4 linked regions of the Homo sapiens genome follow. The protein of the gene in region 4 interacts with the protein of the main gene of each other region in a pairwise test. Each region holds a gene or a part of one and is shown on either strand. Other genes may lie near its edges.

Region 1 (4,961 bases), on a different chromosome or scaffold from region 4:
TAAAATCTTAAGAATTTTTTGGTCTATGTTCATGATAAACTGTGGTCTATAGTTTTCATGTAATATCTGGTTTGGGTATCAGGGTTTTTGCCAGCCTTATAGGATGAGTTTCGAAGTGTTCTCTCCTCTTCAGTTTTCCAGAAGAGTTTGTGTAGAATTGGCATTACTTCTTCCCCTAAATGTCTGGGCGATTGTCTTTTTAAAATTTTTTATTGAGCTGTAAGATGTATGTAGTTTACTAATCCCAAGCGCATGGCTCATTATTCCTTAATGCCCAGACTGTGCCATGTGTGGCCAGTTGGGGGCGCTCCAGGCACCTTTAGATGCCGCCCCATCATTCTGTGAGCACTTTCTTGCTTTCTGGTTCAGGTATGTGTTCAGGCTCATCTTTTCTTGTTTTCTCCGTGTCTCAGTCCTGGAATCGGCCATTTTTCCACAGAGCTATAGTTCCTTATAGCAGGATGGGGAGTTTTAGTAACTGCCTGGGCCCAATGCTGTTTGTGCTTCAGAAGGTTTGGGCCAGGCCCTGGTTCCACCAGCAGCAGGCATGCCTGCATTGACTTTCTGCTTCTCCTGCTGATTTGGCAGGGGCGACTGGCTGCTCCTGCCTCCTTTGTGTTCCCTGGTCATGTCTAAGGCCAGGCCCCTTCTGCCCAGGCAGCCAGCGTGGCTCTCTTCTTGCCTTTTGGTTGTCTATCTAGTGGAATCTGGTAGTGGACCTGGCACTTGTAGCAATGTTTGATCAGTAGAGTGAAGGAGATGACATTTCCCTGCTTCCCTGTGTTATGGAGCTGTCTTGAGGGGGGCTTTTGGTAAATACCATCGTCGAGGTGTGTACAGAATGTGAAGAGACAGGAGATCGGGGAAGGCTGTAGGCACAGCGGGAGCCAGGCTACCTGCAGGGGAGCCTCAGGGGCCCTGGAGTTCCCTGGGGACTGGCCACCAGAGAAGAGCTGCAACATCAGGGCTCTTCCCAGGAACAGAGTGTTGGGTTTCACCTTTTCTTTTGGCCAGGGACCCCTCCCTCCTGGGGAGCTGTAGCCATTTGGCACTTACTGGTCACTGGCGCCAGCTGTGGGGTGCTGCATGTTCTGTTTCATGGTGGTTTATGTCCCATGATCGCTTCCTCTGTACATTCCCTTCAGACCAGACAGTTTGCACACATCTGTGTTTGTGCACAGTTTAGCAAGGACCGTGGAGCTTTACTTGATGGCTGAGGGTGAGCCCCTCAGAGCCACACAGGCTTATGGCACCCCAAGCTCATCCCAAACTTGGGCCTCCCAGGTCTGCCCACCCTTCTCCCTCTGGCGCTGTGCGGGGGCTGGGAGCTGCAAATGAGGGAGGGGCTGTCTACCCTGAAGGGCAGCACTGAGGGTGGAGGGCCCGACCACACCCCTGGTAGGCAGAGGCCCCACGCTCAGGGTCAGCGACCCCGCTCCTCCTGCTCCTTTCCCATGCCTTTGCCTGAGGTGGTCTCTGACACTTGAGTAGATGTCTCATGGCCTGTGGCCATGGGGGCCCTGAAGCCCTCAGACTGCAGCCTCCCTCCCGCCTGCCTCCTCCAGCTGCCCTGGGTCTGGGGCTGCAGCTTTGGCCCCACCTGGCCAGTCTTCCCCACCCCACTCTTTCAGTGCCCCGCACCTTCTGGAGTCCCCTGGAGACTTGCCACCAGATAAGGGCCCGGCCCTGGGTGACAGTGGGGTGGGAGGATGGAGGAGGCTGGCATCCTCCCCACTGCAGACACCCCTTTGGCCTGGCTGCTCTGCTGGGCTGGCAAGGCAGGTGCCCATGGGTGAGGGCTGCTGCCGAGTCCCACCGCCTGCTGACGGGCTCTCATCCCTCCCAGTGCTCAGGCAGGCGCTGCGGCAGAAGCACCAGGAAGCCCAGCAGGCCTGCCGGCCCCACAACCTGCCTGTGGTTCAGGCGGCTCAGCAGCGAGAACTAGAGGTACTGGGGGCGCAGGCAGGGTGGCCGGCCCAGCTCTCCTGTGGGCACCACCTGGCTCTGCTGACTGGGCTGAGCTGAAGGGGTGTGGGGGCTCAGGCATGGGTGGCTGTCCTGGGCCTGAGTGGGACACTGGAGGCCTAGTGAGTCCCACCAGGTGGCTCCTCTTTGCGGATACCAAGTGTGCTGGGGCTGGGTGGAGGTTGAGAACCCACCAGTGCTCCCCTGGATAGCAGCTCCTCGTGGGTTTGGGCCTCCACAGAGCAGGTGGCCTCAGGGGGGTACAAAGGCAATGGTAGGGTGTTGGGGCCAGGAAGGGGCCCATCCTTCTCCCAGGGAGCACAGGGACAACCAGAGACTGGCATGTAACCAACAAGCCGTGGGGCAGGGTGTGCCTGTGGAGATGTGTGTGTGGTCCTAAGGCAGTCCCAAGCCAGGGCATTCGTGGAAGCCCCTTGGGGCCCCCTTCAGGGGTTCACATGGCCGAGGAGAGGCCTGGGTGTGGTGAGGATGCACCGGTGGTGTCAGAGCTGCTGCCACTGGGGACGGCAGCAGGAGCATGTGTTTGAGCTGCCCTCACCTCCCCGCCCCCTGATGGCAGAGCTGCCCTCACCTCTCCCCCTCCGCGCCCTGGCCCCATGGCAGGCCGTGGAACACCGGATCCGTGAGGAGCAGCGGGCGATGGACCAGAAGATCATCCTGGAGCTGGACCGGAAGGTGGCTGACCAGCAGAGCACACTGGAGAAGGCGGGGGTGGCTGGCTTCTACGTGACCACCAACCCACAGGTCAGTGCCTGGGCCTGCTCTGCCCTAGCCCGAGTGCCCCGGGGCCCCATTCCATCTGGGGTTTTACTGCTGGTCCCTGGGGAGCCAGGCTCAGGGTATGGGGGTGAAGTGGAAGGATTGAGGCTCTGGAAAGGATTTCTGTGCCATTCCCAGCACGGAGGCCAGGCCCATTCCCTACAGGAGGGTGAGCCAGCCAGCCATGGGCACTGCCCACCCTCTCCAGGCCTGCTGTGCCACACAGGGCCCTCTTCTGCTCCCCTCCCGCATGCCATTCCGAGTGGCCCTGCTGGGGGCAGAGGCTCAGATTCCGAGTGGCCCTGCTGGGGGCAGAGGCTCAGATTCCGAGTGGCCCTGTTGGGGGCAGAAGCTCAGATTCCACCCTGTCCTGGCAGGCCATGACCAGGCTTCACAGGATGGTCGCCCCCGTGGGCTCACTGCCTGGCACCCTTGGGCCGGGATGAAAGGGGCCTGGGGGTCACTCTGGCCTTCATGGGGCCCCTCTGTATCCCAGGAGCTGATGCTGCAGATGAACCTGCTGGAACTCATCCGAAAGCTGCAGCAGAGGGGCTGCCGGGCAGGGAATGCAGCCCTGGGACTGGGAGGTCCCTGGCAGTCGCCTGCTGCCCAGTGTGACCAGAAAGGCAGCCCTGTCCCACCATAGCCACAGGCAGCAGAAGTCTGGGCAGAGTTCATCTTCTTGACCTTTGGCCACTGCCTTCCCAGCTGCCCGCAGGGGGTTCCCCCTGCTGAGGAGAGACCAGGTGGACCCCAGCTGCCTGTCACCCTTCATCTGGGACTTGCTGTCAAACCCTAGGATAGTCTCATAAAGGGGAGGCTGGGCCAGCCTGCTGCTGTCTGCTTCAGGACCAGGCAGAGAGTGAGGCTGGGGGTTCTCACACCTTACTCCACCGGGCACATCCCAACCTGCACTGGGGCCCACCCGAGCGCTTGTTCTGGTCTCAGCCGCTCCCTTGGCAGCTGCAGCCCCCATGCAGAAGAGGCTCCCAGGCCCAAGCTCTGTGTGACCCAGAGAAATAAAGATGCCTCAGTGTGGCCCAAATGTGGCTTGTGTGATAGCTGCAGGTTCTGCCATAACCGGGGCCCTGGTAGGGCCCCCACCTCTGTTGCAGCAGAGGCCTCTACCTGGGGGCCCCTTCCTGGGCTGTGTGCCCAGCCCACCACCCCTCCCCCTGCCTGGAGACTGGGACCCTCCAGCCTTTCCTGCCCCAGCCCTGGTCCCAGGATGCTGTCACTGCCATCTGTACAGGGGCCCCCATCCAAGCCCCAGGGCATGAGGACCACATCCAGCCTGCTTTGTGGGGCTGGGGGCTGGAGAGCATGGGAGAAGGCCCGGAGTGCAAGTATGCGCCTGCCGCAGCCTGGTCAGTGTCCTGTGGGAACCACTAGGAGGAGCCTGATGCAGGTCACTGGGATAGAGGACTCAGGGTGGCAGGAATGGCCTGAGGAGGAGCCCTGCGGGGAGGCATGCCAGGGCCACCTGGGGAGCTTGGCTTCTGCATCTGCATGAGTCCCCTCCGTGCTGGCCTGGGCCCATGGGCCCTGCTGGGTCCTTGTGGAGTCAGGGTTGGGGGTGTCCAGCACCCTGGGTGGCCAGGTCTGCGCAGGGCCTGGCCTCCAGGAACAGATGATGCTGGAAGCCAGAGTTTGGGATGAGACTTCTCTGACCCTGTCTGAGCCACTCCCTCTTTGTTGCCCAGAGCTGACCCTGTGTGAGGGCAAAGGGCTCTCAGCTGCAGGAACAGTGGTTTATTGACCAGGCAGGCCTCCCCAGCCCGGCCACTGCTCCCCGAGGGGCTCGGGCTATGTGGGCTGGCCTTGGGAGAAGGTGGACAATCCTCTAGGTCCAAGGACATGGGGGTCACAGAGGTGGGGGCCTTGGGCCCACACATCCGAGGAAAGTTCCTAACAGTTACCAGCGGCTATCCCAGGCAGGTATCAGGGTCAGCCCACACCTGAGTGCCCCCACCATTGGCAGGGCTGGGAGGCACCTGACTCCACCTCCAGCAGCTCTGCAAGTGTGGGGTGAAAAAAGGTGAATCTGTGTGAGGATGGGGTTGGCTGCAGCTGTGGTGATGGCCTGGGCGGGGGCGGGGGGGTGCTAGGTGGGGCAATGGAAGAGGTTGCCAGTTCGGAGCCACCTCAAGAGCTCCAGCCACAGCAGCTGCCGCTCCCGACGGGCACCCTTCACGAGGCTGCTGTTCTCCAGGGCG
Region 2 (9,430 bases), on a different chromosome or scaffold from region 4:
GGGTCCCCCACCCCTCCATCCTGGCCTGGCAGGGTCTCACCCGTGCATGGGTCCTGACTGGGCGCCACTATGCATGTCCAGATGGCCAAAGAGGGGGCTGATCCGGGGGTCCTGTGTGCTGGCCTCAGCAGTAGTGAAGTGGTAGTCCATGACCCGGTCCAGATCTTTGTGAGCGATTCCTCCACCACGGTCTGAGATCCTAGCAAGATGGCAACAACAATGGGCTTGGCTCAGCTTTGATGGGGTACTCACCACCCCCCAAGCAGACAGTGCAAAGTCTGCCTTCCTGTTCCTTCCACCCAGAGCTGGAATGTGGTCCACCTAGACCCTTGGGCCTTGTTTATATCATCCTCACCCCTGCCAGGGCCACTGACTGCTTATACCTTCTCACAGGATGTGACATTTATCCTCGGCCCAGCATCCTAGACCGACTCCTGACTATTTCTCAATTTCAAGCTCCTCAGCTGCTGACAGAGGCAGGATACCTAGGCCTGCAGCTGGCCCCAGATCCATTAATAAGCAGCTCATGGCCATCTCAGGATTCAGAGAATAGTTTGTCTGGTCAGGGACCAAGTCCCAGAATGGGGCAGGAAGGGGCTCAAGGTCCTAAATCAAGTCAGAAACAGTGCCTAGACCCCCATCCCATCCACCTCAGCTCAACTCCCACTCAGGGCAAACCTGATGATCAGATCGACATCATTGTTGGCGATGGTGATGACCACATCTGGGACATTGTAGGGAGTGTCTAGGTGACTCTCCATTGTGGCTCTATGCAGAGGGGAAAGACCAGTAGGTACAAGCACCCCGGTTCCTGTCCGCCCCCAAGCCAGCACATCAAGCCACCCCACCTCATGGCATTCTTGAGCAGCTCCGGCAGGATGTAGTCCAGTGGCATAGGGATGAAGGGGAACCGGGCAGCCACATGGCCATTGATGCGGACACGGGGCGCATTGCCATACTTGTGCTCACACAGGCGTCTGCGGATAGGAGCGAGGGTTCAGTCAGGGGCCCCTCCACCAGTGGTTTGCAACTGGAAACAATTCTGCCCCCCTAAGTAACATATGGCAATGTGCAGAGACATTTTTGTTTGTCACAACTAGGCAGTACTGCTGGCGCCAGGGATGCTGCTGAACTTCCTAACGTGCACGGGGCAGCCCCTGTGACAAAGAATTATCTGGCTGGAAATGTCAATAGTGCCATGGTTGAGAAACCCTGCTCCCCGCAGATCATGCCCCGGGCAAGGGCTCAGACCCAAGCCTTCCCTGCCCCAGATGTCTGCCCACCCCCTGAGCCATTCTTGCCTCACCTGGCAAAGTCCACCCACTTCTCAATAATCTTCTTTGGTGAGAGACGAGTACAGATGATGCCGACAAAGTCAGGCTGGCCGGAGAAAGGAGGTCAGGACTACCCACGCCCCTAGCCCCACCCCAAGATGCTGGCAACTTCGGAACTGCCCCAAAGCACCAGCCCCACAGCCTCAGCCCCCAGGCCCTTGACCCGGATCCCCAGCCCAGTCTCCTCTGTCTCACTTAATGTTCCCAGGTGGGTCTCAGGTCCCAGAGCCCCACCTTGTCCTCATGCAGCGCCAGGTGATGCGTGGCCAACATGCGGATTCCAAGCCTCGAAGTCAGCGTCTTGTCCAAGAAGTAGCGGACGAGCTTTTCATCCTGTAAAGAGTGAGGTCTCAGAATCCCGTGCCCTTCCCACCCCCAGCAGGCCCGGCCTCTCCTTTGCTGCCCCAACCTCTATGTGCTTCCGGCTCTCACGTAGGCCCTCTGCCAAGAGGGTCACCACATCCTTGTGGTCATCCAGCAGCTGTCGCACCAGCTGGCAGTACTGGGCCTCGTCCGCCTGGTCCTTGATCTGCAGGTCACAGAGTCATGAGGAAGGGTGGTCCAAGCCCAACCTCTCAGCCCCTCACCCTGCTCTGGCCCAGCACTCACCGGAGGGAAGTCTGTCAGCTTCTGGAAGGCACGGATATATAGCTCATGCTGCAAGGAAGAGGTGTGGGAATTCACAAAGCCGCATGGGCACTGAGCAGAGAACAGCCACCCCCACCTACCCATGGGGATCACCACCCAGCTGGTCGACCACGTGATCAAACCCCCACTTCGACCCTTCCAGGCTCCGTGAATACACACCTTTGGCTTCTGAAGGCCTGGGGTTGAATCCTGTGTGGCCCTGACACCTTTAGGCAAGCAATCGTCTGCCACTCTGGGCCCCAGACTCCCCACTTGCCCCCGGGGCAGGGTGGCCCGCTGACCTAAGGTCCTCTCTACCTTACCACGTGCAGTATGGTGGGGTTGCAGCCAATGATGAAAGGAAGGCAGCGGAAGCCCTTGATGCGGTGAGCAATCCTCACTGGAAGTTCTTGCTGCAGGTACCGAGCACTTTTCTGGGAGAAAATGAGAAGGGAAGGCGGGGCTGGAGCCTGAGTGTCTGGGAGAGCTCCAGGATCCACGAGGAAAATAGAGGGCGTGAATCTTACCAGAAGGTGGCTGCCGTCCTGAGAGCGGCCAGCGTAGAGCATCATGGTGGGCGTTAGGCGGACTGAGGGCTAGAGAGGGAGAGAGGCCTTGAGCAGAGAACCCCCAACACTCTCCCTCCCGCCTACATCCCGGACCCTGGGCTGGCTGCCCCCTTGCGCACCTTCTCCGCTGCCGCGTCGATGGCCGACTGGTTGTAAAAGGAGGTGACGGTCTTGGAGCGCTCCCGAGCCATCTCCACGTGGTGTGTGTCGGTGGCCGACGTCGAGCGGGCCCGGAGCGCGAGTGCGGGTCCCAGGAGGGGCCGGAGCGGAAGCCCGCCCCCGGGACCGCTCCTCAGCACCGACGCCAGGATCATCGTCTTGCTCCTTTCAGACCCGGTGGCCGCTAGGACTGAGGATCCGCTAGGACTGAGGACCCAGGCGACCCAAAATGGGGCAAGGGGGTGTGGGTGGGTAGGGGCTCTTCTCCGACTTCAGGGACCAGGGTGCGTCGAGGATGCTGACAGGCTCAGCCCGCGGAGAGCAGCTCCCATCTACCGGGGCGGGGAAGAGGAAGTTGTAAGGATCCGAATCCACAGAACCCGCACCATCTCTCCACCTGTGCATCGGTCTCCCCAGACCCGGGCGACCTCTCCCCACCACTCCCACCGTCTCCCCAGATGCACACAGGCCGCGCCCAAAGGACCTAGCCTCCCGGGGGCTTCTATTCCCCAACCCGAGGCTCTACTGGCGGTGGGAGGGCTGTCGGGGGAGGAGCCCCTCAGACCCTTCCAGCCCGAAAACCTCGCCCCAGCGCCCCGGGGTCCCGGGTACCCTTCTCAGGGGGCGGGGCTGCCCCTGCCTGCCCAGCGCCTTCAAACCCGGGCCCTGGGAGCGCGGCCAGCGAACGTGCGACACCAGCCCTGGGCCCCTGGGGCCGGCTTGGGAGGGTGCGGCACGGAGTCCCCAGCGGGACCCCCCACGCGGGTCACTTGGTTCGGCCCGGATGCCCCCCATATGGTAGATGCCAGCCCCGTCTGCGCGCCCGCGCTGTGATGGAGGCTGCGGACGTGCGCCGCGGGGCCTCCGCGGACTGAGTAGGCTGGGGTCGCCCCACTTACCGCGGGGCCGGAGCCAGGGCCCGGGTCCCAGCGGAAGGGCTCGAACAGTCCACTCGCCAGGCGCCCAGCCGCCTGCGCCCTCCGCCGCCGTGACGTCGCGTGGGCGGCAGCGCCCGCTGGGTCCTGGGAGTTGTAGTTTGGTCTGAGGACGTGCCGTCCCGGGCGCCCGCGCATCCAGGCCACGCCCTTGCTCCCGGACCCCAAACAGCACCGCTTCCTCCACACGGCTCTCGAGGCTCTCCGTGTCCCTCCCAGCCTCTATCTCCTGCTCTATGAAACGGGCTCCCTGGGAGCTGGAAGATCTTAGATGTAAAGCGCACAGATCACGCCCTACCTGACTCCTTCTCGGAGCTCTTGTCCTCCTTCCAGTTCTTGGTTCATTTATGGGTAACCAGGCTTCAAACCCCAGCTCGACCCCTTAATATCTGGAGCAAGTTATTTAACTGCTCAGTGCTTGGTAAGATGAAGAGATATCATCAGTTTTGGGGTTGTGTGGATTACATGAATTTATATGAGTGCCTAGAACAGTGCCAGGCGTGGAATTAGCACTATATAAGGGTTAGGCATTATTATTATTCACTCATGCCTGCAGATAATGCAAGTCGCTGACTGGGTGTCTTTTCTGCACCAGGAGAGGAGATTGGGCAGTGAGTTGAATAGATCTTTCCGTGCCCTGCATAAGAAAACAGTTTCAGTATCATTGGCTGTGATGAGGACTTTCAGAGGAGGCTGCGGGAGCCTCAGATAGAAACTGAGACAGCTGTGTAGGTGCAGCCTGAGTAGGACTTGCAAGGGAGCGGGGTGGGAAGGGTGTGTGGCAGGACAGACAACAGCCCAGATGGTCTGAGGATATGGCTGGAGCCATATGGGATCTGGGAAGGAGAGGGGCGGCAGCAGAGAGCGAAGGATAAGTCTGCATTTGTCCTAGGGTAGTTAGGAACTACTGAAGGGTTTTAACTGGTGGGCTCTCCTCCTTAGACAGAACCCCTTGTCTGCAGTGATTTAGAGTGGGGCGTTTGGTGAGACCAAAGGCAGAGAAACCAATAAGAAGACAATTACTTTAGGCCAGGCGCAGTGGCTCAGGCCTGTAATCCCAGCACTTTGAGAGGACGAGGTGGGCGGATCTCAGGAGTTCCAGACCAGCCTGGCCAACTTGGCAAAACCCCGTCTCTACTAAAAATACAAAAATCAGCCGGGTGTTGTGGCTGGCGCCTGTAATCCCAGCTACTCGCGAGGCTGAGGCAGGAGAATCGCTCGAACCCGGGAGGAGGAGGTTGCAGTGAGCCGATATCCCGCCACTGCTCTCCATCCTGGGCAACAAGAGCAAAACTCCGTTGCAAAAAAAAAAAAAATTATCCAGGCAGGAGGCGCTGGAAGGGACACGTTTCAGTGTGTGCACGTGCATATGTGTGTAGTGTGTATTTGTACTAATTGCAATTTTCTTTACCATGGTTATATATTTCCTAAATATGTTCAATAAAAAGTGCTAAGTGAAGCAAGTGACATCTTTGGAGGCTATCTTTATTTATTTATTTGGAGATGGGGTCTCGCTCTGTTGCTCAAGCTGTAATACAGTCGCTCCATAGTAGCTCACTGCAGCCTCCGACTTAAATGATCCTCCCACCTCAGCCTCTCAAGTAGCCGAGACTGTAAGTGTGCACCACTACCCCCAGGGTGATTTTTTCCCCCTCAGGCAATCCTTTTGCCACAGCCTCCCAAAGTGCTGGGATTACAGACGTAACCCACCGTGCCTGGCCTATTTTTCTTAGAGCCGGGGTCTCGCTATGTTGCCCAGGCTGGTCTCAAATTCCTGGCCTCAGCCTCCTGAGTTGTTGGGGTTACAGGAGTGAGCCACTGGGCCTGGCGGCTGTCTTTAAACTTGGAGGTTAGCCAGGTGCAGTGGCTCATGCTTGTAATCCCAGCACTTTGGGAGGCCAAGGCGGGCAGATGACCTGAGGTCAGGAGTTCGAGACCAGCCTGGCCAATATGGTGAAACTCTGTCTTTACTAAAAATACAAAAATTAGCCGGATGTGGTGGCATGCACCTGTAATCCCTGCTACTCGGGAGGCTGAGGCAGAAGAATCGCTTGAACCCGGGAGGCGGAGGTTGCAGTGAGCCAAGATCGTGCCAATGCACTCCAGCCTGGGCGACAGAGAGAGGCTCCGTCTCAAAAATAAATAAATAAATAATAAATAATAAACTTGAAGGTGAAAAAAATAAATAATAAATAATAATAAATATAAACTTGGAGGGAGGACGCCTCACCGTGACTGGCCTGCCTGAGCAATTGGGGGCAGACCACGGGAAAGGGGCGCCCTGCATCTCTGGGTTTCCTCTTTGACCCCCACCCACACCATTCCCACCCGTTCTTTCCCAACGTCCTGGAGTACAGCCAGGCGGCGGCAGCCCCAAGGCAGCCACGGCTGGAGCCCGTGGTAAAAGGGAGCGGGAAGGGTGCTCCTGGCGGGGAGGACAGGCTGCGCAAAGCAGCAAAGGACTGGCAGTGGTCTGTGCGCCAGAATCTGGCGCTCACGTGGCCGCGGCGTGGACAGGAGCCGCAGGCGGAGGAGGCTGCGGCTGCCACCGAGGTGGAGAGGTCTGGCACAGGCCTCACCCCATTTGACCCCGCTCGCTAGGCCCCGGCTCGGCCTGGACTCGCTGCTGCCCCCGGCGGCGGAGGTTGGACATGCACCTCGCGACCCCCTTTTCAGAATACTGTATACAGGTCAGGCGGCTTTCTTTTTTTTTTTTTTTATTTTTTTATTTTTTTTTTTTTATTTTTATTTTTTATTGATCATTCTTGGGTGTTTCTCGCAGAGGGGGATTTGGCAGGGTCATAGGACAATAGTGGAGGGAAGGTCAGCAGATAAACAAGTGAACAAAGGTCTCTGGTTTTCCTAGGCAGAGGACCCTGCGGCCTTCCGCAGTGTTTGTGTCCCTGGGTACTTAAGATTAGGGAGTGGTGATGACTCTTAACGAGCATGCTGCCTTCAAGCAGGGCAGAGGGGCTCCTCACTTCCCAGTAGGGGCGGCCGGGCAGAGGCGCCCCTCACCTCCCGGACGGGGCGGCTGGCCAGGCGGGGGGCTGATCCCCCCACCTCCCTCCCGGACGGGGCGGCTGGTCGGGCGGGGGGCTGACCCCCCCCACTTCCCTCCCGGACGGGGCGGCTGGCCGGGCGGGGGGCTGACCCCCCCACCTCCCTCCCGGACGGGGCGGCTGGCCGGGCAGAGGGGCTCCTCACTTCCCAGTAGGGGCGGCCGGGCAGAGGCGCCCCTCACCTCCCGGACGGGGCGGCTGGCCAGGCGGGGGGCTGATCCCCCCACCTCCCTCCCGGACTGGGCGGCTGGCCGGGCGGGGGGCTGATCCCCCCACCTCCCTCCCGGACTGGGCGGCTGGCCGGGCGGGGGGCTGACCCCCCCACCTCCCTCCCGGACGGGGCGGCTGGCTGGGCAGAGGGGTCCTCACTTCCCAGTAGGGGCGGCGGGGCAGAGGCGCCCCTCACCTCCCGGACGGGGCGGCCGGCCGGGCGGGGGGCTGACCCCCCCACCTCCCTCCCGGACGGGGCGGCTGGCCGGGCAGAGGGGCTCCTCACTTCCCAGTAGGGGCGGCCGGGCAGAGGCACCCCTCACCTCCCGGACGGGGCGGCTGGCCGGGCGGGGGGCTGACCCCCACCACCTCCCTCCCGGACGGGGCGGCTGGCCGGGCAGGGGGCTGACCCCCCCTCCCCCCTCCCGGACGGGGCGGCTGGCCGGGCAGAGGGGCTCCTCACTTCCCAGTAGGGGCGGCCGGGCAGAGGCGCCCCTCACCTCCCGGACTGGGCGGCTGGCCGGGCGGGGGGCTGACCCCCCCACCTCCCTCCTGGACGGGGCGACTGGCCAGGCAGAGGGGCTCCTCACTTCCCAGTAGGGGCGGCCGGGCAGAGGAGCCCCTCACCTCCCGGATGGGGCGGCTGGCCGGGCGGGGGGCTGACCCCCCCCACCTCCCTCCCGGACGGGGTGGCTGCCGGGCGGAGACGCTCCTCACTTCCCAGACGGGGTGGCTGCCGGACGGAGGGGCTCCTCACTTCTCAGACGGGGCGGTTGCCAGGCAGAGGGTTTCCTCACTTCTCAGACGGGGCGGCCGGGCAGAGACGCTCCTCACCTCCCAGATAGGGTTGCGGCCAGCAGAGGCGCTCCTCACATCCCAGACAGGGCGGCGGGGCAGAGGTGCTCCCCACATCTCAGACGATGGGCGGCCGGGCAGAGACGCTCCTCACTTCCTAGATGGGAAGGCGGCGGGGAAGAGGCGCTCCTCGCTTCCTAGATGGGATGGCGGCCGGGCAGAGACGCTCCTCACTTTCCAGACTGGGCAGCCAGGCAGAGAGGCTCCTCATATCCCAGACGATGGGTGGCCAAGCAGAGACGCTCCTCACTTCCCAGACGGGGTGGCGGCTGGGCAGAGGCTGCAATCTCGGCACTTTGGGGGGCCAAGGCAGGCGGCTGGGAGGTGGAGGCTGTAGCGAGCCGAGATCACGCCACTGCACTCCAGCCTGGGCACCACAGAGCACTGAGTGAACGAGACTCCGTCCGCAATCCCGGCACCCCGGGAGGCCGAGGCTGGCGGATCACTCGCGGCTAGGAGCTGGAGACCAGCCCGGCCAACACAGCAAAACCCCGTCTCCACCAAAAAAAAAAACGAAAACCAGTGAGGCGTGGCGGCGTGCGCCTGCAATCGCAGGCACTCAGCAGGCTGAGGCAGGAGAATCAGGCAGGGAGGCTGCAGTGAGCCGAGATGGCAGCAGCACCGTCCAGCCTTGGCTCGGCATCAGAGGGAGACCGTGGAAGGAGACCGTGGAGGGAGACGGAGACGGAGACGGAGACGGAGACGGAGACGGAGACGGAGAGGGAGAGGGAGAGGGAGAGGGAGAGGGAGAGTCAGGCGGCTTTCTAAGCGCTTTCAATGTATTTTTAAAAATTTACATATACTCGATGTAAAAGAGAACTGTATGTATTTATTTATTGAGACAAGATATCGCTCATGTCACCAAGGCTGGAGTGCAGTGGTGCGATCACAGCTCACTGCAGCCTCGAACTCCTGTTCTCAAGCAATCCTCCTGCCTCAGTCTCCCAAAGCACTGAAATTCCAAGCGTGAGCCCCACGCCTGTCCTACAACATTATTTATTTTATTTTATTATTTTTTCTGAAACAGTGTCTCACTCTGTTACCCAGGCTAGAATGCAATGGCATGTTCATGGCTTACGGCAGCCACAACCTCCCTGACTCAAGCGATCCTCCTACCTCAGCATCCCGAGTAGCTGTGACCACAGGTGCCTGCCACCACACCCAGCTGATTTTTAAAAAAATTTTGTAAGGACGGGATCTCCTTGTGTTGCTCAGGCTGGTAACGATGGATCTTCTGGCCTGAAGCGATCCTCCCATCTCAGCTTCCCAAAGTGTTGGGATTACAGGCGTGAGCCACTGGGCCCAACCAACTTCTCTCTTTTTTTTTTTTTTTTTTTTTGAGACAGAGTCTTGCACTGTAACCCAGGCCAGAGTGTAGTGGCACAATCTCGGCTCACTGCAACTTCTGCCTCCCAGCTTCAAGCAATTCTCGTGCCTTGGCCTCCCAAGTAGCTGGGATTACAGGTGCATACCACCATGCCCAGCTAATTTTTGTATTTTTGTAGAGATAGGGTTTCACCATGTTGGCCAGGCTGGCTTCAAACTCCTGACCTCAGGTGATCCATCTGCCTCGTCTTCCCAAAGTGCTGGGATTACAGGCATGAACAACAGAGACAAGCAGGGCCTGGCCAACTTCTTACCATATAACTTTGACACTTCTTGTATCAAGAGGTGAGGGA
Region 3 (8,638 bases), about 69 Mb from region 4:
TGACAAGGTACTGAGAAACATCAAATTCTAAAAGAGTGGCAGAGAAACCATAAAGACTTAAAAAATGACAAAAGGATAAAGAAAACATTAGGCCAGTGAAGTGCCACAGAAACAAAGGAAGAAAAATGATTCATGAATCATATAGTTAGTAAAAAATGTTACGGAAGATAATGATTCCAAAGAACCTAGAGAAGTTGGTGTTGGTAACTTCTGTCACAGCAGTTTCAGTAGACTAACAGTAGTAGAAAGTTGTTTAATTAGCTTAATGTAATACATGGGAGATGAAGAAGCAGAGAATAGTGTGGGTTATGCTTAAAGAAGCATGGTTATTTAAAAAGAAAAAGAAGACAGGTTATTTAGGAGAACTAGTGTCTGTTTTTCTTTCCTTTTCTTTTATTCCTTTTGTTGGCTGTTTTTTGTTTGGTTAGTTCTTGTTTTTGTTCTTGTTTTGTTTTGTTTTTTTTAAGTAAAAGCATATTTACAGACTCCAGAGATGGAATCAAAAGAGAAGGAAAGACTAAAAAACAGAAGATTTCATAACTTGAATTTTGGGAGAAGGAATAACAGAAACAGAGAACAGAGAGAAGTATCTTTCATCTAGAGGAAAAGGTAACTTTTCCTCTCAAACTGAAGTGAAGAAAGTAATGGCAGGTAATGATAAATTTGTAAGCATTAGAACAGGAAGACAAAGAAGTTCATTTCTGGTAACTCACTCAGAGCTACTGTATATATGACTGTACTATATCACTCTAGTGGCTATCATTTACATTTAAACAGGTTATGATATATAAAAATACATGTAGAATTTTAAAATAATTTGTTTTAAATACTTACCTTCCATAACATCTTTTTCAATTATTTTAACTACTTCTGTTTGATTATTTGTCTGTTGCTTACGAATAGATGTTTTCTTGAATTTATTCACCATACACTCCTAGAAAACAAAATAGAAAGAATCTAAATAGCTTTCAATGAGCACTCAAGTATAATGCTTAGCACTATGTTCATTCTATGGAAGATACAGTATCTGCTACATAAGAATTAACATCTTTTCTCAAGGAGTTTATAATTTAATTGAAAAGATAATCATAAAATATTAGGAACCTACAAAAATTATTCATTTTTCAAAGTATATTTTAAGCATATAGAGAAAGGGATCAAAGGGAGCTAGAATATTTAAGAGGTCTTCCAGAGTAGGTGGGTATTTAAGTTATAAAGGACACACAGAAACCCATTAAGGAAATAAATTACAGAAGATTGTTAATTAAGGGTCACAGTTCTATGAGAATTACAGTGGTCTGAAAGGTCACTTTTTTTTTTTTTTTTTGAGATGGAGTCTCGCTCTGTCACCCAGGCTGGAGTCCAGTGGTGCGATCTCTGCTCACTGCAACCTCTGCCTCCCGGGTTTAAGCAATTCTCCTGCCTCAGCCTCCCAAGTAGCTGGGATTACAGGCACGCGCCACCACGCCTGGCTAATTTTTATATTTTTAGTAAAGACGGGGTTTCACCATGTTGCTCAGGCTGGTCTTGAACCCCTGACCTCGTGATCCACCCGCTTCAGCCTCCCAAAGTGCTGTGATTACAGGCGTGAGCCACTGCGCCCGGCCTGATCATTGTATTTTTAACTTTCTAATAATTCCACCTCTTCTGTCCAAATTAATTGTACGTACAATCAACAGTCCAGCTCAAGCCCCTTCTTTAAGCATTCCTTAACATTCCCAACTGTCTTTCCCTTTGCTAAACTCCTACATTATTTCTGAATTCCTGGCATTGTCACTTAACAGTCATTTAACTGCTCTGAGCATAATCTTTCATGATAAAAATGAATTGTTACAGGGCTCAACTGAAATAACGAATGAATGTAACCAGCACAACTCCAGTTAATGGATGATAGCTGACTCCACATCAATACAGTTGTTAAAGGACACCTCCCGCAGAAACTGTGAAAAATGTAATAATTTCTGAAATAACAAATACAAATTCTATTATAGAGGAATTCACAAGTAATTCTGAGTTAATTTTAAAACAACTCTTTCTTTAAATAGTAAATTAAAATTTTAGAAACATAAATGTGAGAGATGGGGAGAGTGAAAAATGAAATCATAAGAAATTCATATCAATAAAATGCTTCTCACTTCAAAAACAGCTACTCACATGCAAAAACTCCATAACTACTTTATCAAATTTAGTTTGTTTCTGTATATGATCTAATGTTTCCTGATGTGAAGAACTTTCCAGATGCAGTTCAATATCTTTTTCTTCAAATGTTCGAAATTTACAAAATGAACATGTAAATGCCATTCTGTAAGAGAAAAAAAAGTTTTCCTTTAAATATTACTTTATTCAACTATAAAGAGTTCATAAGAATATAACATTGAAACTAATTTTACCAACATAAATGATTTCCTTTCTTCCTCTTTATGACTGAATTAAACTTAGCTTAAATCCAAAAAAAACAGTATTTAAGTACATATTTGGACAGTACCCATATACCACTTTGCATTTCTAGCCCACCTTGGAGCTTCCGGGTAGGAAAAATTGAATCAGGGGATCTATAAGTTATCCACTTCAAGCCTGGACCAATTAAAAAGGCAAAACAAACCTCAAGAAGTATCAAGTTCCAAAGTTCTGCAACTTATTTTACATGTTGTTCCATCCTCAAGCTTCTAAACCAATGGTAGTATCAATAAAGCAAGGTGGCACACCACCAGACAATCATAATTCACTCCTGTGGAATTCTTGGGTGATAAAAGTCTTGCCTTCTAAAGACTACTTCACTTAGGGATAACTAATAGGCCTGGACTGGACAAATGCATACATCTGTAAGCTCAAGAGCCACTCCATAATGAACAGTCCCACCTAATTGCTTCTTTTTTTCTTTTTCTTTTTCTTTTTTTTTTTTGAGATGGAGCCTCGCTCTGCTGCCCAGGCTGGAGTGCAGTGGTGCGATCTCAGCTCACTGCAACCTCCACCTCCCCAGTTCAAGCAATTCTCCCACATCAGCCTCCCAAGTACCTGGGACTACAGGCATGCGCCACCACACCTGGCTAATTTTTATATTTTTAGTAGAGACAGGGTTTTTGCCACCTTGGCCAGGCTGGTCTTGAACTCCTGACCTCAGGTGATCTGCCTGCCTCGGCCTCCCAAAGTGCTGGGATTACAAGTGTGAGCCACCGTGACCAGAATAACTGTTTCTATTTTACATTATTTTCTTTTCCTTGAATTATGCCAGCAGTCACATAACTGGTTTCTGTCTCCAGTCTCCATTTTCCAATTAATTCTTTGCAATGCTATTAGATTTATTTTCCTGGTTGAGAGTATGAGCTCTGGAGCCAACTGCTGAGTTCATATCCTAATTCCATTTTGTGATCTTGGGCAAGTTACTTGACTTGGTTTTCTGGGCCTTGGTTTTCTTACATTGAGATGAGAACGCTCACAGAGGTGTCTGAGGATTTTTAAAAATTAATGCAGACAAAGCCCTTAGAACATTTCCTAAAACACAATAATTATTCAATTAATTATTGCTACTTCCTATAGGAGGTAAGAGCACATTACTGCTCAAAGGGCTTCATTAGCTCCATAAGCTCCAAAAACAAAGACAAAAATGTTTTCAGCTGCCATCCAGGAAATTTCCTAATCTCTTCTTTTTGGCTTTACTCACCAATACCTTTAACATTATCTGGCACAGCATTTCTTCATTAAATGTTTAAATTAGATTATACCTTTCACCCATTAGAGTCACTTCAATCTACACTGCTTTCAATTTTCTAAATAACAATAACACATTCCTGTTTGCTTTGATGGCAAGCCATGGCCTCTACCTGGGCTGCCTCTCACAACTCCTCCTGTAACCCTACCATTCCCAGATCAATTCAAATACTACTTCCATCATTGCAGCCTCCCCTGATTTCCATGCACCCTTATTTATTTATTTTTTGAGACAGAGTCTTGCTCTGTTGCCCAGGCTATGGAGTGCAGTGGCGCGATCTCAACTCACTGCAACCTCCACCTCCCAAGCTCAAGCTATCCTCCTACCTCAGCCTCCCAAGTGGCTGGGACCACAGGCACGTGCCACCACACCTGGCTAATTTTTGTATTTTTTGTAGAAATGAGGTTTCACCATGTTGCCCAAGCTGGTTTTGAACTCCTAGGCTCAAGCAATCCGCCTGCCTTGGCCTCCCAAGGTACTGGAATTACAGGCATGAGCTACCATGCTTGGTCTCCTATACCCTTATTTAGAAGTTATATCTCATGAGACTACATTGTACTCCTGGTATCCTTCACCATACACTATTATTTATGTACATCTCTCACACATCCATCTCTTTCTCCCTAGGTTCCCTTAAGGGTAGATATAAACCTTTCCATGTGCTTTATTATGTGGGAAGCATTCAAATATCCAAGGGAAGGAACCTATCACAAGAATAGTGATTTACTCAATCTCGAATCCTCATAACTCAAAGTAAAACTGCTCTGATAAATGAAAATAACTTAGACTACTTTAAATAAATTATATCCTAAAATGATAATTTATGAGTTAACATTCTTTTGGTTATATCATCAGATTTATATTTAGAGTTACAGAGAAAATAGCTAAATGAAAGTTCAATTCTTTCATTTTCTCTATATCACAATTTTATATATTATATTAACATGAACATAATCCATATCTAAAATTTTTCATGAGAAAAGTACTCATAGGGCAATTAAATTTAAAAAATTGCATCTTATAATGTAAAATGATTTTTACACTCCAAGACGCTGATAATTTAAAGTCATTTCTACACCAAAATATTAACTATGCCTGTTACTTCTACCAAAAGAAGGAATCACAAGAGATAATGAATGGGACAGAGAACTCACAAGGACTAAAAATAGCAGTAGTTCTTGAAACTAGAACTACTCTTCTTTTTATGGATTGTTTTGTTTTGTTTAGAGATGAGGTCTTGCCACGTTGCCCAGGCTGGCCTCAAAATTCTGGGCTCAAGGCTTTAAGAAAAATTTAGACATTTTTAAAAAACTGCTAAATTGCTAATAGTTATAATATACTGTCACCAACAAATTTTAAGCGTCCTTTGACCATTCCTTAATTAGCAAATCAAATTTCTCCTTAGTAATAAAATGGCATACTATTATTTAAATTTTTAGTTTAATGAAATTACTGTTAAGTTTAAACAATTTCCTTAAAATTATTACTAGCTGTTTTTTGTTTCCTCATCATATTAAACAGCTTAGTTTTCTTACTTTTTAAAATAATTTGGGTGATGTTTTAATCTAACTTGGACATTAATCATTTCTCATGTTTATATTTTCCAAGTCTGTTTGCACTCCTTTCAAATTTTAAGTTTTTATTTAGCCAAATCTGCTCATAATTTCCTTTGTAATTTATTCTATAACTTTTAAGCCTGGGAAAAAAATCTCCTTGCAGAACATTTTGTTTTTCTGTAATTTCATTTTTTTTTTACTACATTCATTCCAGGTGTCATATGAGGAGGCTCTAAACTGATTTTTGTTGTTATTTCATTGTTCAACCAATTCCCCTCTTTTTTTTTTTGAGACAGAGTCTCGCTCTGTTGCCCAGGCTGGAGTGCAGTGGCTCAATCTCATCTCACTGCAAGCTCCGACTCCCGGGTTCACGCCATCGTCCCGCCTCAGCCTCCCGAGTAGCTGGGACTACAGGCACCCACCACACCTGGCTAATTTTTTTTTGTATTTTTTTAGTAGAGACGGGGTTTCACCGTGTTAGCCAGGATGGTCTTGATCTCCTGACCTCGTGATCTGCCCGCCTCGGCCTCCCAAAGTGCTGGGATTACAGGCATGAGCCACTGTGCCTAGCCCAATTCCCCTCTTATTTCTAATATCCTCTTTATTAAATATTACATTCTTCCTTACAGTCTGTTCACAGGCTAATCTGGTATAATAATTAGCTTTGTGTATTACCACATATTTTTAACTATTATAGCTTTTTAATGATTGATTATCTATAAAAGCCAGTACCTACTCATTTACTCTTCTTCAGAATTTCCTTTGGGATCTGGATTGGAAAGAACTTACATATTTGTAATATTTAATTCCTGCCCATGAAAATCACTATGACTCCATACAGTCAAATCTCAATGACAAGTGTTTCTTTTTAAGAATACTGTTATTTCTGAATATTTGATATCTTTTGGATTGCCAATATGAATAGAATGCCTTTTTTCTTATGTTTTCTAAGTAGTGATTACATATAAATATCAAAAACCAAAAGCATTCCTCTGTATCTTTGAACAAGTCTTTTCATTTGAATCTTAAGAACTTTTTAATATTACAATTGATGTGTTGGCTTTTTCTAGGAAATCATTTTTTAATGAACCTAATTTTCTGACTCTAAGTACAAACCTGTATCCATCTCCGTATTTCTCACTGTTTTTTTCTCTTCTGCGCCTTTGTTTCTCTCGCCGAGCCTCAATTCGCCGCTTTTCTTCCTCTTCATTTTTAGGATCAGTTTTTGCTAGGATATTACACAAAAAAGTAAAAGCTAAAATTCATTTTTCCATTCTCTCTTTCCAATCATCAGTTCGTAAAGTACATACTTATGAGGTATACTTAGTGATTGTAATCTAAAATTGAACTCACCAAAAAAATCGGAGTTTGAGACTATCCAGTATTTCTGAAACTTCACTAAATGAACTTCATTCATTTGAATACCATCATCATGAATTCTGTCATATCTGCTTGTCATCTATGTGATTATTTGCTACATATTTTTCTTTAAATGTGCTCATTTGTCCTATCCTTATTCTAAGCAATAATATCCTTATCACCTAAAATCATCTTGGGCATCACATACTTTGGGAAAAACACTAAAGTAACCTGACCGAGCATGAAAATGGAAGTCCAGTAAACACTGCAGAGCCCTGGATGCAAGAACTCATGTTCATATTGTAGGAGCTCTCAGAAAGTTTCTTAAAATTTGTAACCTCCAAAATAAAAGCAAATTTGTTCTCTTTTTTAAAAAATATTCTCTATTGTGATAAAATACACAAAACATAAGATTTACTAGTTTAACCATTTTAAAATGTGCAATTCAATGGCATTAAGTACATTCACAAAGTTACGCAACCATCTCCACTATCTAGTTACAGAACTGTTCATCATCCCATAAAGCAGTCACTCCCCATTTCAACCCTACCCTAAGGCCCTGGTAACCACTAATCTGCTTTCTGATCTACGGATTTGCCTATTCTAAGTATTTCATATACCTAGAATCATCCTGTCTGTTGCCTTTTTGGTCTGACTTTTATTTAGCATGTTTTCACAGTTCACCCATGTTGTACCATGTATTAGTAAGTACTTCCTTTTTTATGGTTTAATAATATTCCATTGTATGAATAACCCACATTTTTTAAACCATTCTTCTGTTGATGTATATTTCAATTGTTTCTACCTTTTGGCAATTATGAATAATGCTACTATAAACATTCATATATAAATTTTTGTTTGGACCAGGCACAGTGGCTCATGCCTGTAATCTTAGCACTTTGGAAGGCTGAGGCGGATGGATCACTTGAGGCCAGGGGTTCAAGACAGCCTGGCCAACATGGCGAAACCATCTCTACTCAAGATACAACAATTAGCTGGGCGTGGTGGTGCACATCTGTAGTCCCAGCTACTCAGGAGGCTGAGGAACGAGAATCGCTTGAACCCAGGGGCAGAGGTTGCAGTGAGCCAAGACTGCACCACTGCACTCCAGCCTGGGCAACAGAGTAAGATCCTGTCTCAAAAATAAAAATAAATAAATAAATAAATTTTTGTTGGAATACTACTTTAAATTCTTTGGAATAGAAGAATACCTAGAAGTGGAATTGCTGGATCATATGGACAGTCTATGTTTAATTGTTTCAGGAAGCACCAATCTGCTTCCCACAGTGGCTTCACTGCTTTACATTCCCATCAGTAATGTGTGAGGGTTTCAATTTCTCCATATCCTTGTCAACATTTGTTATTTTCCTTTTTTTATTATGACCATCCAAGTGGGTATGGAGTGGTAACTCACTGTGAGCAGGTTCTTTCTTATAATACATTTAACTTTATACTTAAAAAAAAAAAAAAAAAAAAAACTTAACTATTTGCCCTTAAATTTTTCCTTTTATGCACTGCTTATCCTTTTGGATGGCCTTTGAAAAATCTACTTATTTATATATTACCTCAAATAAGTAATTTAATCTTCCTTTCATATGCTAAAACTATGACATGTTGTACTTCTAGCCAAGTGACAGAATAGGGTTCCTTTCCTACTAATTTTCTATAAAGTCACATAGTCTATACTATAGCATAGCAAGACCTTGTATTGAGGAAAATTCAGCAATCATCTTTTTAAATGCCCATTTTACACCTGACAGAGAAGGCATAATTTAAAGAATTTTAGTTTCATTCTTAGCTACACAACACTTTTCTCAAGTTTTGTTATATAAAAAGGGGGTATGGGGGAGGGATACATATATATCTGCTTTAAGGGCAAATCAGTTTCTTTATCAAACTTTTGCAATATTTAACCATACGTGCAAAATATATCTTTGAAATAGGTCCCAAGAGAATCAACTGAATTTTCTATTATAGTAATGTCTAATAAAATGTCAAATTTGATACATAACAG
Region 4 (8,638 bases):
ACCTAAATATATGTACATTAATAATACATAATAAATATGTATGATTAATATGGATTAATATAATAATGTAACATTATTACATTACTACATCCATATAAAATTCCATATAAATATGTAATCAAAATATTCCTTCAAATGTTGGCTGCTAAGGCATTGGATGTTGATCATAAAAATATCAATAATGGAAGGAGGCCAGGTGCAGTGGCTCACGCCTATAATCCCAGCACTTTGGTAGGGCAAGGCAGGTGGATCACTAGATCAGAAGATCAAGATCATCCTGGCTAACACGGTGAAACACCGTCTCTACTAAAAATACAAAAAATTAGCCGGGCGTGGTGGCGGGCACCTGTAGTCCCAGCTACTCAGGAGGCTGAGGCAGGAGAACGGCGTGATCCCGGGAGATGGAGCTTGCAGTGAGCCCAGATCGCGGCCACTGTACTCCAGCCTGAGCGACAGAGCAAGACTCCATCTCAAAAAATAAATAAAAGGAAATCAGAATGGTCAGTGGAATTACTGAGCACTCCTAGACCCTAAGAATCATTGTACTTGGTAACAAATTAAGTCAAGGAGTTAGGGAATTTAGGAAATAACACATGAGTAAAAGTCAAATCAGAGTCTTAGTTAATTTCCACACTTTTGAAAAACATAGGGCCTACATCAAATAAATCTTAGGTGAAAAATTAAATCAATTAAGTGGGCAACTTTACACATATATGTGCATTCTATATAGGAAGCTCCTTCATATTTTTAATCTTCTTTTTAAAATAATTTCAAACTACAATGAGTTTTGTTTATTTTCTGATTACAAGATATTTATAAAATATTCACTCAATCTATAACATTATGAAAAAGATATTAAATACTTTATAGGTTTCTGTGTCCTTTCTGTGTAGAGGTCATGTTAATTTTCTCTGTATTGATCTATTTTGGCATATAGATTGCTGAAATGAGTACAGGGTCAGATGTAACGGTTTAATACCTTTGAAATCCTCCCTCCATTTGGGCCAGTTTTCTTCTTTTTAATTCTTGTATTTGGGAATGAAAAATTCATTTTTATGTTTGCTCAAGACAAACCTCTTTAGAAGTACTATCTGCTGACCCAAAATCTGTAATGTATTTTAAGTATAAAAGTATATTTGATCACTTGCTGTTTGAAAAAATTCATGCTTTTTCTGTCATTCAGTAATACAGAAAATTCAGAGCTATTCAGAGCACTTGGATAATGCCAGACAGTAATACAATGATACATATATTTGTGCTAAGGATACAGGTTAGAGGGTAGAAGATAAGTTTAAGCAGTGGTTTGAAAAGCTTCAGGCATAAAATGAGGCCTGAACAAGGTTTAAAAGGAAGGTAGGAAAATGACATAGCCTTGTCAAAGAGAAGTCAGCTGGGTGTGGTCTACAGAAGCTTGTAGGATAATAAGATAAAGGAGATAACAGATTTTCTTGGTTTGTTTATTCAATCATTATTTCATCCATTCATTCAATGCTTTTTTTTTTTTTTTTTTTTTCATGTTTACTACTTGCCGGGTAGAACTGGAGGATAGACTTTAGAACAAGAAATCATATAATTGAAAACTACCTTTGCTACTTTTGGAATTTTAAAACTGAAATAATTTTAGAAATAATTCGACCTCCCTCATTTGTAAATGATGAAAGACTTAAACAATTTCACACAATGAGAAAATGCCAGAACCAGGGCTCGTACCGCTAACTCACATGTTCAACCATCAAAGTACACAGTCCCTATTGGTTTTAGTTCTGCCCTTTTAGATTGGTGGCCCTGCAGATATTTAAAGACAGGCATTATTTTTATCCTCAATCTTCTCTTCTGCTGAGAGGCTTTATCAGGAAAGATGGTAGTGTCTTTTTTTTCTCTCTGCAGGCTGAGGACCTGTTCGTGGAATTTGCACATAAGGCTTCAGCTTTGAACAACTGGTGTGAAAAGATGGAAGAAAACTTGTCAGAGCCTGTGCACTGTGTCTCCCTGAATGAAATTCGGCAGCTGCAGAAAGACCATGAGGACTTCTTGGCCTCCCTGGCTAGGGCTCAAGCAGACTTTAAATGTTTGCTGGAGCTAGACCAGCAGATTAAGGCCTTAGGTGTGCCTTCCAGCCCTTATACCTGGTTAACAGTGGAGGTGCTGGAAAGGACCTGGAAGCACCTATCTGACATCATTGAGGTAACCTGGAACACGGCAGAAACTTCCTTTCACTACAGTGAACATAACCACTTTATTATCCAAGTAAATAGACTTTTGACATAGAAGGAACACTATTAATAACTATACTGGGACAGAAGTCATGAAACATGACTGTCTAAGAAAAACTGGAAAATATGTTTATCATAGGTATACCCTATGCCCCATAATTTGGGCAGTTTCCTGTTTTTGAGTATTGAACAATGATTCTGAGAAGCAAACAGAAGCCCCAAGACATGGTTCTAATGATGAGCTATGAAAAGTTCATGAGGCTTTATATGTATTCATTGTCTACATATCCCCCTCATTCAAGACATTTTCGTTTTTATATACACCTCCAAAAGTGCCTTGCTACGTATGTATTTTTAGCTTTTGTCTGTGTTAATAATGTTCATTATTGAAACTATGAAACATAAAAAGTGTAATAGAAAACTAACCACAATATCACCATTTTTAGATAGTAACTATTGTTTCTAAGGGTAGCAGGCCCTTTAAGGCTGCTTTTGTGTTCATTTAAATTAAATTTCCCCAAAAGAAATTATAAACAGGAGAGGTTTGCTTTTATTACTAGCTTACTTGTTACGGGACTTGGTCTTAGAGGACCCTGCAAGTACTCTTGGGAAATACACAGGCTATCTTTACATTTTAGAGGTGAGAGAGGTTGACTGCATGAAATATGAGCACACAGGCACATACCTGTGGAAGATAGGTTAGACTTGAGAGAGGAAAGATATGCAGTTAAGCCTACAAACCAATTCTCTTATGGCAAAGAAAGGCCTTCGATGTCAGTCACGTTGTCTGTGATTTGGGGTTTTAGGAACGGGAGCAGGAGCTGCAAAAGGAAGAGGCAAGACAGGTCAAGAACTTTGAGATGTGTCAGGAGTTTGAACAGAATGCCAGTACCTTCCTTCAATGGATCCTGGAAACCAGGTGTGCTATGCTACATCCCAAACCATGACCCCTGTGCCACCACCATTTGCCATAGGGATGAAATACATGTTTGAAGGGAAGAGGAGAGACTCTGAGAGCATGTATTCTGCCCTAAAATCCCCATATCTTGCCTATGCTTTATATTTGGAGTTGACTGTTTTCTGAATCAATTCTTGGAAAACCAAGAAATGACAATTTCATCCTTCTGCTTATTATGTACACTTCTGTATTCTCTCCTTGATACTCTCACCTTTCTTTCTGTTGCCTGTAATTTCAGTCCAAAATAATAACAATTTCTTATGTTCACATGCCATATTGCACTTTACAGAGTACTTCCATATCCATTACCTCACTTAACTGTCGGAGCAACCTTGAAAAGCATACAGAGCAGCTCTTATTAGCTCTGTTTCCAAGTGTGGAAAGTTCAAGTAGATAAATTTACTTGCTCAAGGTCACATATATATTTACTGGCATAACCAGAAGCAGAATCTTCTATGAATACCTCATATGAAGCTATTCTGTTGTGTACCTACTAAAGTTCTAATGAGAATCAAGTGAGATAATTTATGTTAATTGTGCTTATTAATAGCAAACTGTTCTGTACCTGAAGATAACATATGTCACATCTTCTGGGGTAAATGACCTAGAAAAAGGAGACTTAGAAGATGTAATATATTAGAATACATGGTCAAAGTTGTATCCAGTAGGTGTGTCAAAACTGTGGTGTTTTGAGGGTTAATGTGGTGGTTTAGACAATTCATGATATATACTTTTCTACATACTCACTGACAACGATAAATGAACAAAAAGAAATCCTATACCATGTCTAAACCATCTGACAGAAGGCAGAGAAGACACAGAACACCCTTCTCTTCCTCTTTTCTTGGTGACTTCATCACATCCTGGCAATGTGTGTCCAACACCAAGCATATTCCTTGACATTGGTGCTCCTTGTCCTGAAGCAAGGAGCTTTATGGGAGACTCTGATCTTCTCAGAGTGGGAGAGGCCTTGGGAACCAGTGGGTGGACAGATTCATGTTTTGTGGCAACAAAAGATTTAAAATGTTTCATAAATCTGAGGAAATGAGATCTTTAAAGTAATCCATTTTAACATATCATCTCCCTTTTCTCTCATGTGATTCCTGTTCCGGACCTCCATGTCCAGGGCTTACTTTCTGGATGGGTCAGTATTTTATGTTATCATCATGTTTGCTTTATTATATTATTATGGAAGAATTCGTTAAGAAAGAGTTAGTGCTGAGACATTTTCATTCCATTGTAATCTGGTAGTATGTAAATAAAAATGTGGAGTGAGAAGGAAAAGCTCATTATATTTCATTCTGCCCTTATACTTCACTAGACGGAATCTTGCCTACATTGCTTAAGTGTGTATTTAAGAAGAATAATTAAGAGGGGTATGTGAAAGCCTTCTCCTAGTCAGAGAAGAACTAGGGAAAGTCTTCCCTTCTCATCAGTCTGGCAAGGTTGTGAAAATTTGGCTCTGTGAAATTTTGCTTCATGTAAGCCACATAACCTTGGAGAAGTTGAAACAGAGGAGCTTCGAGTTGGTATGCATGTATGAAATATTGACCTGTGATGTGATGCATAATGATTTCCTTCGGTTCTTAACTAGATCATTGCTCAAAGAAACAGGAACTCTGGAATCTCAGCTGGAAGCAAATAAAGTAAGTATTGTTTTTTCATTAACTGAAGATATTGCCAAAATTATAAGGAGTGTAAAAATAATCACCTAAGGGAAGCCCAGGTGATACTTTTAGGTATGTATCACCTGAAGTCCATTTTAACCATAGGCCATCACATCATGAATATAAACCTCAGTCTACTTAAATCTCTGAATTTCAATTTCTGCATCTACACAATAGAGTTAGTACCCATTGTAGAGTCACTGTTTGCCCTGAAGAAAGAATTTCATGGGAGACTCTGATCTGCCCAGAGTGGGAGAGGCTTTGGGAACAGTGGGTGGGTGGTTTCACGTTTTGTGGCTACAAAGGATTTAGAACATGATGATGAAGTAAAGGAGCAAATGTAAAAGTGCCCAACACTGGCAAATTTCTGTTATTATATGACGTAGTAAGATGATACAATTGAATCTAATCATCTCTTGACAACTGAGCGAAGTAATGGGTTAGAACAGTGTTTCTCAACATTTTTTTTTTACTATTATTCTTGCAGGAGAAAAAAATTAAGTAATGACATTTAATTTTTTTCTAACAAAAAAATGAAATACTAGAGAATACGATGTCAGGTAGTTTTGACTGTCATCTCACTTGAGTTAAAGTGGCTTTTATTAAAAAAACAAGGAATAATGGATGCTGGTGAAGATGTAGAGAAAGTGGAAATAGTACAGCCACTATGGAAACCAGTATGGAAATTCCTCAAAAAATTAAAAAGATAAAGACCATATGATTCAGCAATCCCATTACTGGGTATATATCTAAAAGAAGGGAAATTAATATATCAAAGAAATATCTGCCCTCCCATGTTTATGACAGGAGATAACAGGGAGACTATTCACAATAGCCAAAATATGGAATCAACCTAACTGCTCATCAATGGATTAACTGATAAAGAAATCATGGTATACACAATGGAATATTATTTGTCCATTAAAAAATGAAATTCTGACATTTTCAGTAACATGGATGGAACTGAATGTCATTATATTAAGTGAAATAAGCCAAGCACAGTAAGACAAATATTGCATGTTCTCACTCGTAGGTGGGAGCAAAATAAAATGGATCTCATGAAGACAGAGAGTATATTGGAGATTACTAGAGGATAGGAATGGTAGGGGGAGATAGAGGAATGAAGAGAGGTTGATTATTGGGTATAAATATACAGTTTGATAGAAGAAATAAGACTAGTAATTGATAGACCAGTAGGGTGACCATAGTTTACAATAATACCTTGTATATTTTAAAATAGCTAGAAGAAAATACTTTGAATGTTTCTAGCATAAAGAAAAGACAAATATTTAAGGTAATAGACATCCAACATATACTGATTTGATCTTTACAAATTATATGAATGTATTAAATTGTCTTGTATACCCTGAAGTATGTACATCTATTATATATAAATGAAACTTAAAAAAAAGATGTCAGGCAAATTTGACCTTTGAAAGGCTACAAGCTTTGTCATATCCCACATTTTTTTCACTGCACTCCACAATCATCAGAATAAATTCACACTTACCCTTATGAGCAATATTCCCTCACTGAGAAAGCATGGGCAAGATGCAGAAATTTGGCATAAAACATGTCTGCATGGCAGGAGCAGCCCATGAAAATCATCCCAAGTTGATGAAAGTGGCCCAGGAGTGAACACTGTGGAGCTTAAGTGAGCCTGAGAGCTCAGCCACAATCAGTGTTGCAGATAAGTCCCAGTGCAGATCACTGTGAGCCATTGATGATGCATGGACTCTGGAAATTTTATTTTTCTTTATTGGCTCTCTTGATAGATGACAGATGATAGACAGACAGATAGATAGATGATAGATAGATGATAGATAGAAAGAATATATAGATATAGATGTATGTGTGTGTGTGTATAACTACTAACTCTTAGATTTATATGTTGCAGAATACCAGAATGACAAGTTTTATTCACCTAAACTTCCCATTATTTTATAAATGAGGACTATAGAAGTGAAGTGGTTTTCCCAAGTAGTTCATCTTTTCACAGAGAACAAGAAGATTCCTGAAAATAAAATCAGCCTGTTATCTCCTCTTCCACCTCTAGGTTTTGAGCTGGTAACCTGGGCAACTAATTGTCTCTCTTCTCTGTCGTTTTTCCAGAGAAAACAGAAGGAGATCCAGGCGATGAAGCGTCAACTAACCAAGATTGTGGACCTGGGGGACAACTTGGAAGACGCTCTGATCCTTGATATCAAATACAGCACCATTGGATTGGCTCAGCAGTGGGACCAGCTCTACCAGCTTGGGTTGCGGATGCAACACAACCTGGAGCAACAGATCCAGGCCAAGTATTGAGGGCGTGTGGCCAGAGCAGGGAGGGATGCAGGTGGTGTTAGGTGTTAGGACCTTAACTAAGGGCGAGAGTTTGGTGCACCAGATAAAAGAGTTGCTTCAGAGAACCAATATTCTGGGTCTTTACTGCCCCACGGAATGACTATTTCTCTTTATACTGAAATCCATCATGAAATAAAAGACAGTGCTCTCCATCCACCTGAGCCTACTCATCACCCACTTGGACAACAACTGACTTTTATACCCAATTTCTCAGAGTTCTTTCACCATCTTATGTGATCTCTTAGGAAACCATTCCCTTTCATAGAATTTTATCTAAAATGTAATGTCTAGATTAAAAGAAACATTTAAAGTGTGGCCAAATAGAGCAGAAGGGCAGAAACTCATTTTCTAGATAAATTCACTATATCAAAGCAGCTCTAGGTCTCAATAGCATTTTGGCAACATTTTTATCTAGATTAGGATTGGCAAACTTTTTCTGTAAATGGTCTGATAATAAATAATTTAACTTTGTAAGGCACATATATTTTCTGCTGTAACTCCTTGATTCTGCTGTTGTAGTGAAAAAAGCAGCTATGATAAGTGAATGACCGTGGCCATGTTCCAATAAAGCTTTATATATGGACATTGAAATTTAAATTTTATGTAATTTTCATGTTTCAAAAAATTTTCTTTTGATTGTCTTCAACCATATGAAAATGTAAAATCTACTCTTGGCTCATGGACTGTACAAAAGCAGGTGGCAGCCTAGATTTGGCCCATGGACTATAGTTTGCCAACTCTTGAACTAGATGACTCAAATAGCAAATTGTCCATTAAAATTCCTCTCTCTTCCATGTGGCTTGTGTTCTGCTAACCTGTGTTTCATATACAGGGAAAATTCATGTTTTTTTTTTTTCTTTCAGGGACATCAAAGGTGTGAGTGAAGAGACTCTAAAGGAATTTAGCACAATCTATAAGTGAGTATAATTTCATAGTTAACTGCTTCTTTGTTTTTCAGATTATTCAGAATGAGTCTACAAATAATGTTTCTCTCACTCTGTGAGGCTTGGTGGAATCTTAAATGAAGATCTAGATATGCTCATTAGCTCCAGTCATGGCTTTCTGTGAGATTTTCAGACTTCAAAAAATACATTTCTTCATTCTCAATGTTTTATGCTTTTCTCTCTATCCATTAGGTTAAAAAAATGTACATGACACAGACAGGCTTTGTATTCAGTCCTCTGATAGTTTTGTGACAGGTCAATAAAGCTTCAGCTGACGCAATAAGACATATTCCTTTCTGTTCTCACTTGGTTTTTCTATTGAGCTTGATAAATTTTTTTTTCTTTTTTTATCCTTTAGACACTTTGATGAGAATTTGACAGGGCGCCTGACTCACAAAGAGTTCCGGTCCTGCCTGAGAGGACTCAATTACTACTTGCCCATGGTGGAGGAGGATGAACATGAGCCCAAGTTTGAGAAGTTCCTGGATGCTGTGGATCCAGGGAGGTAGG

The links.
Region 1: the proteins of SPTA1 (region 4) and DGCR6L interact in binary tests that used the Homo sapiens proteins (3 or more experiments, as listed by UniProt).
Region 2: the proteins of SPTA1 (region 4) and BCKDK interact in binary tests that used the Homo sapiens proteins (3 or more experiments, as listed by UniProt).
Region 3: the proteins of SPTA1 (region 4) and ZNF326 interact in binary tests that used the Homo sapiens proteins (3 or more experiments, as listed by UniProt).

Annotation. Positions count from the first base shown.
Region 1 is NC_000022.11:20,313,105-20,318,065, reverse strand, and holds the end of DGCR6L (protein DGCR6L), read left to right. Parts: intron 1-1,846; coding exon 1,847-1,947; intron 1,948-2,589; coding exon 2,590-2,730; intron 2,731-3,241; coding exon 3,242-3,391; 3' UTR 3,392-3,828; downstream 3,829-4,961. UniProt on the Homo sapiens protein: May play a role in neural crest cell migration into the third and fourth pharyngeal pouches.
Region 2 is NC_000016.10:31,102,638-31,112,067, reverse strand, and holds the start of BCKDK (branched-chain alpha-ketoacid dehydrogenase kinase isoform a precursor), read right to left. Parts: upstream 3,683-9,430; 5' UTR 3,589-3,682; intron 3,022-3,588; 5' UTR 2,845-3,021; coding exon 2,650-2,844; intron 2,558-2,649; coding exon 2,489-2,557; intron 2,396-2,488; coding exon 2,285-2,395; intron 1,992-2,284; coding exon 1,944-1,991; intron 1,864-1,943; coding exon 1,744-1,863; intron 1,668-1,743; coding exon 1,569-1,667; intron 1,381-1,568; coding exon 1,307-1,380; intron 978-1,306; coding exon 849-977; intron 769-848; coding exon 679-768; intron 200-678; coding exon 41-199; coding exon of another isoform or gene 37-40; exon of another isoform or gene 1-36. UniProt on the Homo sapiens protein: Serine/threonine-protein kinase component of macronutrients metabolism.
Region 3 is NC_000001.11:90,010,981-90,019,618, reverse strand, and holds part of ZNF326 (DBIRD complex subunit ZNF326), read right to left. Parts: intron 6,494-8,638; coding exon 6,382-6,493; intron 2,303-6,381; coding exon 2,155-2,302; intron 935-2,154; coding exon 835-934; intron 1-834. UniProt on the Homo sapiens protein: Core component of the DBIRD complex, a multiprotein complex that acts at the interface between core mRNP particles and RNA polymerase II (RNAPII) and integrates transcript elongation with the regulation of alternative splicing: the DBIRD complex affects local transcript elongation rates and alternative splicing of a large set of exons embedded in (A + T)-rich DNA regions.
Region 4 is NC_000001.11:158,613,716-158,622,353, reverse strand, and holds part of SPTA1 (spectrin alpha chain, erythrocytic 1), read left to right. Parts: intron 1-1,887; coding exon 1,888-2,184; intron 2,185-3,019; coding exon 3,020-3,132; intron 3,133-4,297; coding exon 4,298-4,315; intron 4,316-4,765; coding exon 4,766-4,817; intron 4,818-6,950; coding exon 6,951-7,138; intron 7,139-8,047; coding exon 8,048-8,101; intron 8,102-8,486; coding exon 8,487-8,633; intron 8,634-8,638.